Linked DNA regions of Homo sapiens: all the other regions are linked to region 2. Evidence: fine-mapped expression QTL. A gene starts in region 2. Each other region holds a variant in brackets. All regions are shown on one strand. Distances are between the middles of the regions.

Region 1 (2,500 bases), 33 kb after region 2:
ATGCCCGGCTAATTTTTGTGTTTTTAATAGAGACAGGGTTTCACCATGTTGCCCAGGCTGGTCTCGAACTGCTGGGTTCAGGGGATCCATCTGCCTCGACCTCCCAAAGTGCTGGGATTACAGGCATGAGCCACCACACCTGGCCTGTGTACATACAATTTTAAAATTAAATTATATTGTTTAAAAGTAAATTATTGTTAAATAGCAGTAATTCCATTGCCTTCCACAAGTCTGCCTATTTTAAATAATATAACAACAAAACTTTATATATAAAGTATCTTATATTCTGTTTTTTCACTTAATACTTATATATACTATTTGTGAATTATTGTTTTATTAAGCTTTACACCTGATGTTAGAGATGTATGTGTCTGCAATTTCTTGCTGGCATATATAATGCTCCTCTGAACATTTATTTATTGTATAGCTACTATTTGCTTTTATTGGATAAATCATTTGGAAAAATTCCTGTGAAAGAAATTACACAAGAGGATTGCTTGAAGCCAGAAGTTTGAGATCAGCCTAGTTAACATAGTGAGACCCCGTCACTACAAAAAATAAAAATATTAATTGAGTGTGGTGGCATATACCTGTAATCCCAGCATCTCGGGAGGCTGAGGCAGGAGGATCATTTGAGCCCAGGAGTTCAGGACTACAGTGAGCTATGATTGTGCCACTGCACCCAAGCCTTGGTGACGGAGTGAGACACTGTCTCAAAAAACAAAATATGAGTCAAGCCCCAGAGCATGAGTTTGCCTTATAAGCCAAAACTGGAAATTCCCATCCCCTTTGCCAGGGATTCGTTTAAGAATAAAAACTGTGACTAAATAAGACAAAAGGGAAAATGGCTGGATACCAGTGTCACACAGTCTTGTAAGAATTTTCGTGTATTATTTCCTCTCTCTCTTGTCTGTCTGCTTAACCTGCTCTACCTGCTTTTTTGTTATATAATTGTATTTTTGAAATAAAATTGAGTATACATGAGCAGAATTGGCAATACCAGAAATCCTATGACTCAGCTCTCTTTTCCTGTTGACTTATCAACACTGGGACCAGTCATTATCAGCTTAGTGGAAAAAGACACAGAAGATGGGGAATTAAAAGAATCAAATATTTACTTACTTCAAACTAATATAGACAATTACATCTTTTATCTCACAATAGTAGTCAATTTTGCCAACAAGAATAGAAAATACTCAAACCTGATGGTTAAGTATCCTTTTTCCCAAAGCAAATCGATTTCAGATATGTCGATACTTTGTTCAATTGCTTGCAGTCAAGTTCAGTAACCTTGGAGCTGGGTTCCTACGTGTTGATGTTATGTCCACTTTAAATCTTAGAGACCCACATTTTCTTCCCCCATACGTCCAAGTTTTTGAGGGACATGTGGATGCCTGCTAGTATTGTCT[A/G]TCTGTCTATCTACTACAAATATGTGGTTATATCACACACACACACACACAATTGTAGGCCTTCAGAGGCCAGTGGTTTGGAATAATCAGGAACAACTGAGATAGTCCTGAAAGACTTGGAAGTCTCAGAAGTAGAAATGATGAGGATTAAAAGTGTTGCAGGGGTAGAAAAAAGAAAGAATAAAGGCCAAGAGGGAGGAAAGAATAAAACCAATGGACTATAGCTAGAGTTTGGAGTCTGTATAGGCAATTAGTGGGAGACAAAACTGGAAAGAATAGTTTGGACAGTACTGTAGAGGGCTTTGAATACCAGAGTTAAATTTCTGTTCGATGGACAATGGGAAGACATTGATGATTTTCTAGTTGGAGAGGATTTGATCACAGCTGGGATTGGAAGCTGCACCTGTGATGGGCAGATATCTGTAAACACTGTCTTAGTCTGCTTGGGCTGCCATAACAAAGGTGTAAACTTGATGGCTTAAACAGCAGACATTTATTTCTCACCATTCAGGAAGCTGAAGATTCTAAGATCAAGGTGCCCCCAGATTCAGTTTCTGGTGAAGGCCCTTTTCCTGGCTTGTAGACTGCTGTCTTCTTGCTGTGCCCCACATGGCTGAAGGAGAGACCTGTGGGTTCTTCTCCCTCTTCTTATAAGGATAATAATCCCATTATAGGAGCTCCACCCTCATGACCTCATCTAAACCTAATTACCTCCCAAAGGCCTCACTTCCTAATACCATCACATAAAGGGTTGGGGCTCCCACATATAAATTGAAGGGAGGCACAAACATTCAGTCCGTACATGTACCATCTGGGTGTCTGTTATTACCATAATTCAAATGAGAGGAAGATCTGAACAAGAATGAGAGTGAAGCAAGAGCAAAAGGCATTGCAGAGGATGAGGAAAAGAAGAGTTCACAGACTCTGAAATGTTGATCCAGGGTGAGTGTATCAAAGTGCCATCACTGGAATTGTGGTTAAGTGGTTAGGGATGTTTTGGATGCTCAGGGATGTTGAATTCAATTTAAGTTATGTGACCTGAGGGCAGAACATACAGATAAGTGTAAGCCTCAAGAGAGAGAGATTAGGTT
Region 2 (2,500 bases):
CTTTTCCTTCTTTAAAAAACATATAATGTTATAGTGATATTTTTTCAAACTCTCATACAGAATCAAGACAACAGCACATAAAGTATGCAGAGGGACATATCCCATTCTTACCTCTTAACAGTAATTTAAAAGTTAAGAACACCCATACAGAACATCAGCTAAGCTAGGAAAGGCAAAACTGATTGGGCTTGTTCTGAAAGTTGATCTGTGTCAATCAAAATAATGGTCTTTAGAGTGCTATATGATTAAGTCTAATTTCTTAAATATGAGGAAAAATGAACTTTGCAATTATTTTTAAAAATCTTTTCATCTCTTAGACAGTGTAAAAAGGCAAAAAGCAAAAAACACAAGACTTTCCCAAGATTAGGGGAAGATGATCTCACCGTTAATATTCATCTGCTGAGAGCAGTTATGGGACCCATGTCAGGAATACATGCTTCAAATAAGATGGGACTTGAGAATTGCTGAGAGACTTCAGGAACATTCTTTAACTTCATGGGGCCTCAGTTACCCCACCTTTAAGGGAAATAATAATAGCAATAGTACCTTGGAGGATTTCTGTGATAAAATGAGAAAATGCTTGTGAGAAGTACATAAAATATTGGCTTACTGAAAGATGTTACGAGGCAAGCAAGTATGCCTATTTTCATTCAATGTTTATTATTTCAAAGGCAAAGTTTCCATATAGATTAAGGCCTTCATAACATCTGAATACCTTTTCTAGTTCTTATTGTATGAAGATAAGAAGGATGGTTGGAGGCTTTGTAAGGAATACCTTTCTCTTCTGCTCCCCTCTCACTCCCATAGGCTGGGAGCAGTTGATTTCACTACCTCAGATATGCAAATTGATGCCACCTTCCTGTAGCCACTTTTGCCATAGCTGACCTTTTTGTTGGGTGGTGGGGAGGGGAGCGGGCAGGATTAGGCGAGGGGTAGTAGTTGGGATTTCTTGGTCTTGGAATTCAACCATCCGATGTATTTGTTTCCCTGTGTCTATTCCCTTAAGTCTACAGGCACTGTCTAGTAATTTTATAGTTTTCAGCGGCACCCCAGGGGACAGGACACCTTGGCCTTTTTATAATCACTCTAGAGTCACAAAGCAGAAAGGAAAAAAGTTAACGATCAGCTATGCAAAGGCTTGTGTGGATTGCTTAAGGACAGGCGATTTTCACTTTACCAGAGTTACTAAAGGACTTCAGGAGAAGGATCCCGTCCCTGTAGGAGCGTTTGTGGTTGAAGAAGCAGGAGGACGAGCGCTCAGGTGCGCCTCGGCAGTTTGCCTGGGGTCCGCAAGTCCAGTGCTACTTATTAGCTGCTTGCCGTCCACCGACACTTTAGCGGAGAACTGGAGGAGACCCCAGTGGGCTCCCGGTCCGGCCAGGAGCAGGGCGTTTCAGAGGAGACCGTCTGGGGCTTCCCAACCCAGGCGATCAGGATAGGCAACAGCCAAGAGAGGCGCTCAGTTGCTTTGCACCCTCCTCCCACCTCGGTTCTGTCCACACCCACGGGCGCCCCGCCCCCTCGGCCTTATAAAGGGGACTCGGCACCTCCGCGCGCCTCGCCACCAGAGGTTTCCCAGAGAGGAAGGCGTGGCTCCCTCCCGGGCCAGTGAGCCCTGGCGCCGCCGCGGCCGCGGTCCCAGCAGCGGAGTAGGGCGGCGGCTGCGCCCCGCACCATGGGGGGCAGCCCAGCCCCAGCCGCGGTAAACGCCGACCTCCGCCGCCGCCCGCGCCGCGTCTGCCCCCTCCCGCTGCGGCTCTCTGGACGCCATCCCCTCCTCACCTCGAAGCCAACATGAAGGAGACCCGGGGCTACGGAGGGGATGCCCCCTTCTGCACCCGCCTCAACCACTCCTACACAGGCATGTGGGCGCCCGAGCGTTCCGCCGAGGCGCGGGGCAACCTCACGCGCCCTCCAGGGTCTGGCGAGGATTGCGGATCGGTGTCCGTGGCCTTCCCGATCACCATGCTGCTCACTGGTTTCGTGGGCAACGCACTGGCCATGCTGCTCGTGTCGCGCAGCTACCGGCGCCGGGAGAGCAAGCGCAAGAAGTCCTTCCTGCTGTGCATCGGCTGGCTGGCGCTCACCGACCTGGTCGGGCAGCTTCTCACCACCCCGGTCGTCATCGTCGTGTACCTGTCCAAGCAGCGTTGGGAGCACATCGACCCGTCGGGGCGGCTCTGCACCTTTTTCGGGCTGACCATGACTGTTTTCGGGCTCTCCTCGTTGTTCATCGCCAGCGCCATGGCCGTCGAGCGGGCGCTGGCCATCAGGGCGCCGCACTGGTATGCGAGCCACATGAAGACGCGTGCCACCCGCGCTGTGCTGCTCGGCGTGTGGCTGGCCGTGCTCGCCTTCGCCCTGCTGCCGGTGCTGGGCGTGGGCCAGTACACCGTCCAGTGGCCCGGGACGTGGTGCTTCATCAGCACCGGGCGAGGGGGCAACGGGACTAGCTCTTCGCATAACTGGGGCAACCTTTTCTTCGCCTCTGCCTTTGCCT
Region 3 (2,765 bases), 480 kb after region 2:
TCATCTATTTCAGGACTTTGCTCAAATGTCACATGTCTCAGCAAGGCCCCTCTATTTAAAAATTACACCCTCCAGCATACACATTTTCCCTTTCCTGCTTTATTTTTCTCCATAGAATTTATCACATTCTAGGAATATACTATGTATTTTACTTATTTATTTTCTATGTCATTCCACTAAAATGTAAGTTTCCTGAGGGCAGAGCTCTTCGTTCACCATTATAACTTCTGAACCACAAAAAACACCCAGCACATAGTAAGTGCTCAATAAATATCTGTTGAATGAATGAGCAAACAAATGACCCCTCTTCCAGGAGACCTTTAAATACAGACCAGACAAACCACTGTGTAATAGATTCTCTGTTGGCTAAATGATAAACACCCAGAAAAATGAACTGGCACACCTCTTGGCACATTTTAGCTCTTCCATACAAATTCCAATAGACAGCAACACAGATGCTAGTGAACATAGGCTGATATTATCAGACAATTGCTTTATAAGTAGATCTTGGAATGAGAAAAGAGAGATGGTAAGTTAGCCAACTTCAATATATGCAGTGTCAGATCATATCTGACACTGCATATTTTGAACAACAACAAACTATTACCCAGAATTTGACAAAGTCATACTGCTTCAGAATCTGGGCCTTCTCTCTCAAAAGAACTATGTCTGACACTTTTCCAAGCTGTACTTGCTGTAAATTCTTTGGATAACCTAATCATGAGGTTACTGTGTAGAACTATCAATCTTATAGTGCCCTAGAAAAAACAATAAATTAATTTCTCACATGATTACAACTAAGTTTAAGAAAATCTGCTTTGCCTTAGCAATTTCTAAATGCATGTTTTCAAGAACTTAAAGATTGTGTGTAATAAACTGGGTCTTTTGACTTTGCCTAGTCCTACCTATTACAAGTCCTCCTATGTGCTATGTTCTGGTAGTACAGTGGTGAACAAGTCTCCTGGTTACCTGTTTCTTAAAAGAATAATTCCCTCAGATAAGCTTAATCAGGGGTCAAATTCAAATCAAGTAAATAAATTCCAGGCACTCCAAAAACGTTAAGTAAAGAAATAGGAAAGGGGCTATAAGAATTAAGGCAAAATGAGAACCTGCAATCTTCTCATTAAGTCAAATGAAAATTACTTATAGCAAAAGAAATCAAATTAGTATCAAAAGTATTAGGGAATAATATATCTTAAGCCAAAGAAAAAGACAATTAGTACTGATCTCTTTTAACAAGTATAGTATTTAACACAGTCTCCTTCCTTATGGGCCCTTGAAACCATTTCTCAGCCTTCCTTTTCTCTCAAGACCTCTAGAAGTTAAAAGTTGTTGGGTGTATATTACCTATCAAATTATTTTTTAAAAAATTACCTTTTGGTAGTCCCAGCTGCTCAGGAGGCTGAGGCAGGAGAATGGCGTGAACCAAGGAGGGGGAGCTTGCAGTGAGCTGAGATCGCGCCATTGCGCTCCAGCCTGGGAGACAGCGAGACTCCGTCTCAAAAAAAAAAAAATTACCTTTTGGCCAGGCACAGTGGCTCATACCTATAATCTCAGCACTTTGAGGCAGAGACAGGGGAATCTCTTGGAAGCTGACGATGGAGGATGGCTTGATCCCAGGAGGTCAAGGCTGCATTGAGCTGAGATCGCGCCGCTGCACTCCAGCCTGGG[C/A]GACAGAGGGAGACTCTGTCTCAAAAAAAAAACTACCTTAAAAAAAACTCCCTATACTTTGCAGTATGCTTCACATTTTAATGTAGACATGCAGATGACTATCTCTCCCTTTCCATGTAGCCTTCTCCTTTAATTCATCATTAAGTCAATCATACTCAATATACTAGTGCCAAGTATGTTCATATCTTTTTCTCTGTATAGTCATTATTCTATCTAGAGCAAGATCAATTTCTACATCCCTGAATAACTAATAATTTGTTGCCCCTCAAAAATAATTCTTTAAGTATTTGCCAAATATTGTTTAGAAGAAGGCAGAGTCCTGCAGGGGAAATGGCAGACAACAGCATCTCTCCTCATTTTTTGCAAATAAAATGGCTTATCCTTATATGGCAACTATTTATTAATACTGGAACATGTTCCTTGTCAGAAGGTTGGTGACAGTAAGTTTCTCTTACCCCAAGTAGATTATCAAACATTTCTTCAAACCATGTGAGCACTCTCCCTGAGGAGAGTTTTATTAAATACAAATTTATCCATGTTGATGCATTTACTCTAAGGTTTTAGTATGCCATAGTGATTGACACTCTAGAAAGCTGCTTGGGTGGTGCACTCCTTCAAGGTCTAGTGACCTTTACTTCTTACCTGGGCAGCTAATTCCTAACTGGTCTTCTTATATCAGTTCTTGAACCCCTCTGAACCATTGTTTACACAGTGGGCAGAGTGAACTTTACAAAGTGCCTATGTTATTTTCTTGCATGTTTTATGCTCTTGCATAAAACACCATATTCCTTCCAATCTTGGACCTTTTACACATGTTGCTTTTCTCTGGAATATTTCCCCCACCCCACCCTACATTCTTTGCTATGAATCTCTTTCCTGACCTCTCAGACCAAGTGAAATTCCCATAATTTATTTCTCCAGGTACACACTGCTTCTTCTTCAAAGCATTTATCTAAGTTATTATTAAATTATTAATCCTCTCTCTCTACATATATATATATTTCTTCAAAGCATTTATGTAAGTTATTATTAAATTATTAATCCTCTCACGCTCTCTCTCTATATATATGTGTATATATATATATATATTTAAT
Region 4 (2,765 bases), 520 kb after region 2:
TTGAAATGGTAACTTCACCTCCAGTCTGATGCCAGTTATGTCTACATGGAACAACTTTTTCCCCAGCATCCTTTTTAGTCCACATGTGTTTCCCTGTTGTACAGCCCTCTTGGGCTAAGAATGTATTAAAATCAGAAGTTTTTCTTCTACAACAGCTTAGGTATTTCATTCCCTCATGGAAAATAGGTACTCCAGAATGATATACACAGACTTCTTCTAGACTTTCTAGACCCCAATATGTCTTTGAACACCCTCTATTCTTACATGAGGTCCCAGTCTTAATTTCATCATTGTCTTCTTCTTTCTTCTTCATTCCCTGATGACAGTTTATCAAGAGCTTGTTTTAGAGAGGCAGATATTTTTAATTCCAAATTTGTCATTGGTTCATCTGGGCTTGGCATTTTTATTGCTTCTACTGGCTTAGGGGCTTGAATTATGTGTTCCTGAAATTTGGGTTTCAATTCAGATAGTTCCTTCTTCTCAGTAGTCTTGACTTCAGGTTTGACTGGCTCAGGTGGCTTCTCACTATTATGTCTACCTTTGGTACAGCCTACAATGCTTAAGAAATCAGAAAAATCCGTTGTTTTTCTCTTACAGCAAGACCAACCCTTTAATGCATCATAAAAGACTGGAACACCTGGGTGGTATGTGCAAGCATCATCGGAATCGGTCTCAGGATCGAAGCGCTGACCGCAGCCCCAGTTGTAGCACAGCAAGGCCATTTTCTTTTCCCACCGTCACAGGCAGGGCCCAAACACCGGGAACGGCAAGAGGATGCATTAGCCACTCCCATGTCACTAGCGCCAGTCTGACGACTGAGAAGGCTGCCAGCTTCCAGACTACACTTTTTTTTTTTAATAGAGATGATGTTTCACCATGTTGGCCAGGCTGGTATTGAACTCCTGACCTCAGGTGTTCTGCCTGCCTCAGCCTCCCAAAGTGCTGGGATTACAGGTGTGAGCCACCATGCCCGGCCAGTTTTTACACTTTTAAAGCATTCAGAAGAAGGAAAAGAAGGAGGACATAAAGGAGGAGGAGGAAAATGAGGTAAAGTTTATGAGGCCTGCAGAGCCTAAAATTCTATTATCTCGTCCTTTACGGAAACAGTTTATCGATCTAATGATGATAAAAGGCTGGAGAGCGGATATAGGTAATTGGTGTAGGATAGTGAAGGTGCTAACTCAAAGCAAATTGGTTTTGATGGTCTTTATTAACAAGTATAAAGAAAAAATATTCACTAGGTCAATAATTGCATACCAAGTGCCGGACAAAGTGTTTTCTCCAATAACAAAATCTCCTCCAGAAAAATAGCTGTAATTGGAGTTACCAACAGGTTAAGTTTACAGTGATCCAATTTTATTCTCCAAG[C/T]TCTGGCTGTCTTCTGAACAGGCTGAAGATACAAATTAAGAGGGGACATGGTATGAATCATCGTCCCTGCATCTGCCAAGTCCTCAAAGGCTCTGATTTCTCTAATCAAGTCAATGCTGTCATAAAACAATTCAGTGAATATAAGTTAGGTGACCAACTCATCCCCGTTTACCTGGGACTTACTCAGTTTTAGCATCTGAAGAACCCCCTCAGTTGTAGACAAACGAGGGTCGTTGCTCACCCTAATATACAGAGTATAAAGGAGTGACTTAGCTGCTTCCAGAGGAGCTGGAGAACTTCAGGGAAAAAATTATAAGCTCAGGATTTTAAATTCCCCACCTAAAGAGAAAGGACCTGAAGCTGTCTATGACTGCTCAAAATGAAAGTTTTGCCTTATACTGGCATTGGATTACAGGTGGCTGCAGATGATAAGTAACTGCTTTGCCATTGCATGCTATAAGCAAGTGTCCTCCTTACCAATGCAAACACAGTTATTACTGCCTATAAATTTAATCTCATCCAAGAACCCATTCCAGATAATCCAGAACCAATTCACAATAACCATCCTTAAGATTTTGTTCTCATGGAACCATTACAAACCTCAACTCCTAGAACCATCAGGGTTCAATTAGAGAATCAGAACCTCCATGAGTGATATAAAGTGGGGAATTTATTAAGGAATTAGACGTTACACAATTCTAAGAGTTGGTGGTGCCGCAGGATACATTCAAAAGCAGAAAACAAAATTGTACCGCTTTAAGAGTAAACTCATTCATTCCAGCTTAAACACAACAATTTAGTTGGTCACGTTCTGCCTTTCTCCCAGAGATGGCATAGAAGTTCCTGAAGAAGGGTCATGGCAAGGAGCAGTGGTGGGAAATGTGGGGTTGGGGGTAAAGGGGAGATAGCCGATCGTCCCTTCATATCCTGGGACCTACACTCTGCTGCCATCTAGTGAGACTATGATCGCACTCAGTGCTCAGAAGACGGTCCACACAAGCATTCACTGAGTTCCTTCCCTTCCCACACATCTCTGGTCTTACGGTCCACACCTTTTTCCTCTATGTGTCTCTCATCAAGAATATGAGACTTTCGCAGGTCCACCAGGACTCTCTGTCTCTCTCTCTCCTAAAAGCTGTGCCCTTCTCAAGGACATGGGAAAAACTGGCAGCTCTTCCATGCCACCCCTCAGGGCAATCAAAATTCCAACAGACCATTTTCCCTTTGACGCTGTATTTTATGGTCCTTCTTTCTTAGCGGCATAGGATCCTCATGATATCATGAAACACCTCCTTGTGTGGTTTCAGGCAGAAATTGATTACAGGACAGATGCTCATACTTCCTGGGATTCTATCCCCCTCATTCAGAGAGCACACAGGGCTCCTCCTCAGAGACTT

Alleles and levels. Alleles are on the strand shown, and positions count from the first base shown. SD is a standard deviation of normalised expression in the study named. Not every link is listed here.
As copies of A replace C in region 3, the expression in cerebral cortex of the gene that starts at base 1,556 in region 2 goes up (moderate effect, 0.68 SD a copy in GTEx).
With allele C in place of T in region 4, the expression in prefrontal cortex of the gene that starts at base 1,556 in region 2 is lower (moderate effect, 0.62 SD a copy in CommonMind).

The links.
Region 1: its variant is fine-mapped to the expression of PTGER3 in lung (TOPMed, PIP 0.92).
Region 3: its variant is fine-mapped to the expression of PTGER3 in cerebral cortex (GTEx, PIP 0.96).
Region 4: its variant is fine-mapped to the expression of PTGER3 in prefrontal cortex (CommonMind, PIP 0.95).

Annotation. Positions count from the first base shown.
Region 1 is chr1:71,014,166-71,016,665 of GRCh38, reverse strand. The region is part of intron 1 of PTGER3 (prostaglandin E receptor 3); the gene reads left to right. Among named protein-coding and RNA genes, the nearest start is that of ZRANB2-AS1, 31 kb to the left of the region's middle. The variant A/G (reference allele first, on the strand shown) is at 1,410.
Region 2 is chr1:71,046,872-71,049,371 of GRCh38, reverse strand. PTGER3 (prostaglandin E receptor 3) reads left to right here and starts at 1,556. Exons shown (of 4, transcript NM_198719.2): 1 at 1,556-2,500. The coding sequence starts at 1,795. ZRANB2-AS1 (ZRANB2 antisense RNA 1) reads right to left here. Exons shown (of 3, transcript NR_038420.1): 1 at 1,783-2,500; 2 at 384-558. RefSeq lists an enhancer at 1,559-2,142.
Region 3 is chr1:70,569,194-70,571,958 of GRCh38, reverse strand. No RefSeq gene overlaps it. Among named protein-coding and RNA genes, the nearest start is that of LINC01788, 140 kb to the left of the region's middle. The variant C/A (reference allele first, on the strand shown) is at 1,672.
Region 4 is chr1:70,528,483-70,531,247 of GRCh38, reverse strand. It overlaps the pseudogene CHORDC1P5. Among named protein-coding and RNA genes, the nearest start is that of CTH, 120 kb to the right of the region's middle. RefSeq lists an enhancer at 2,063-2,564. The variant C/T (reference allele first, on the strand shown) is at 1,369.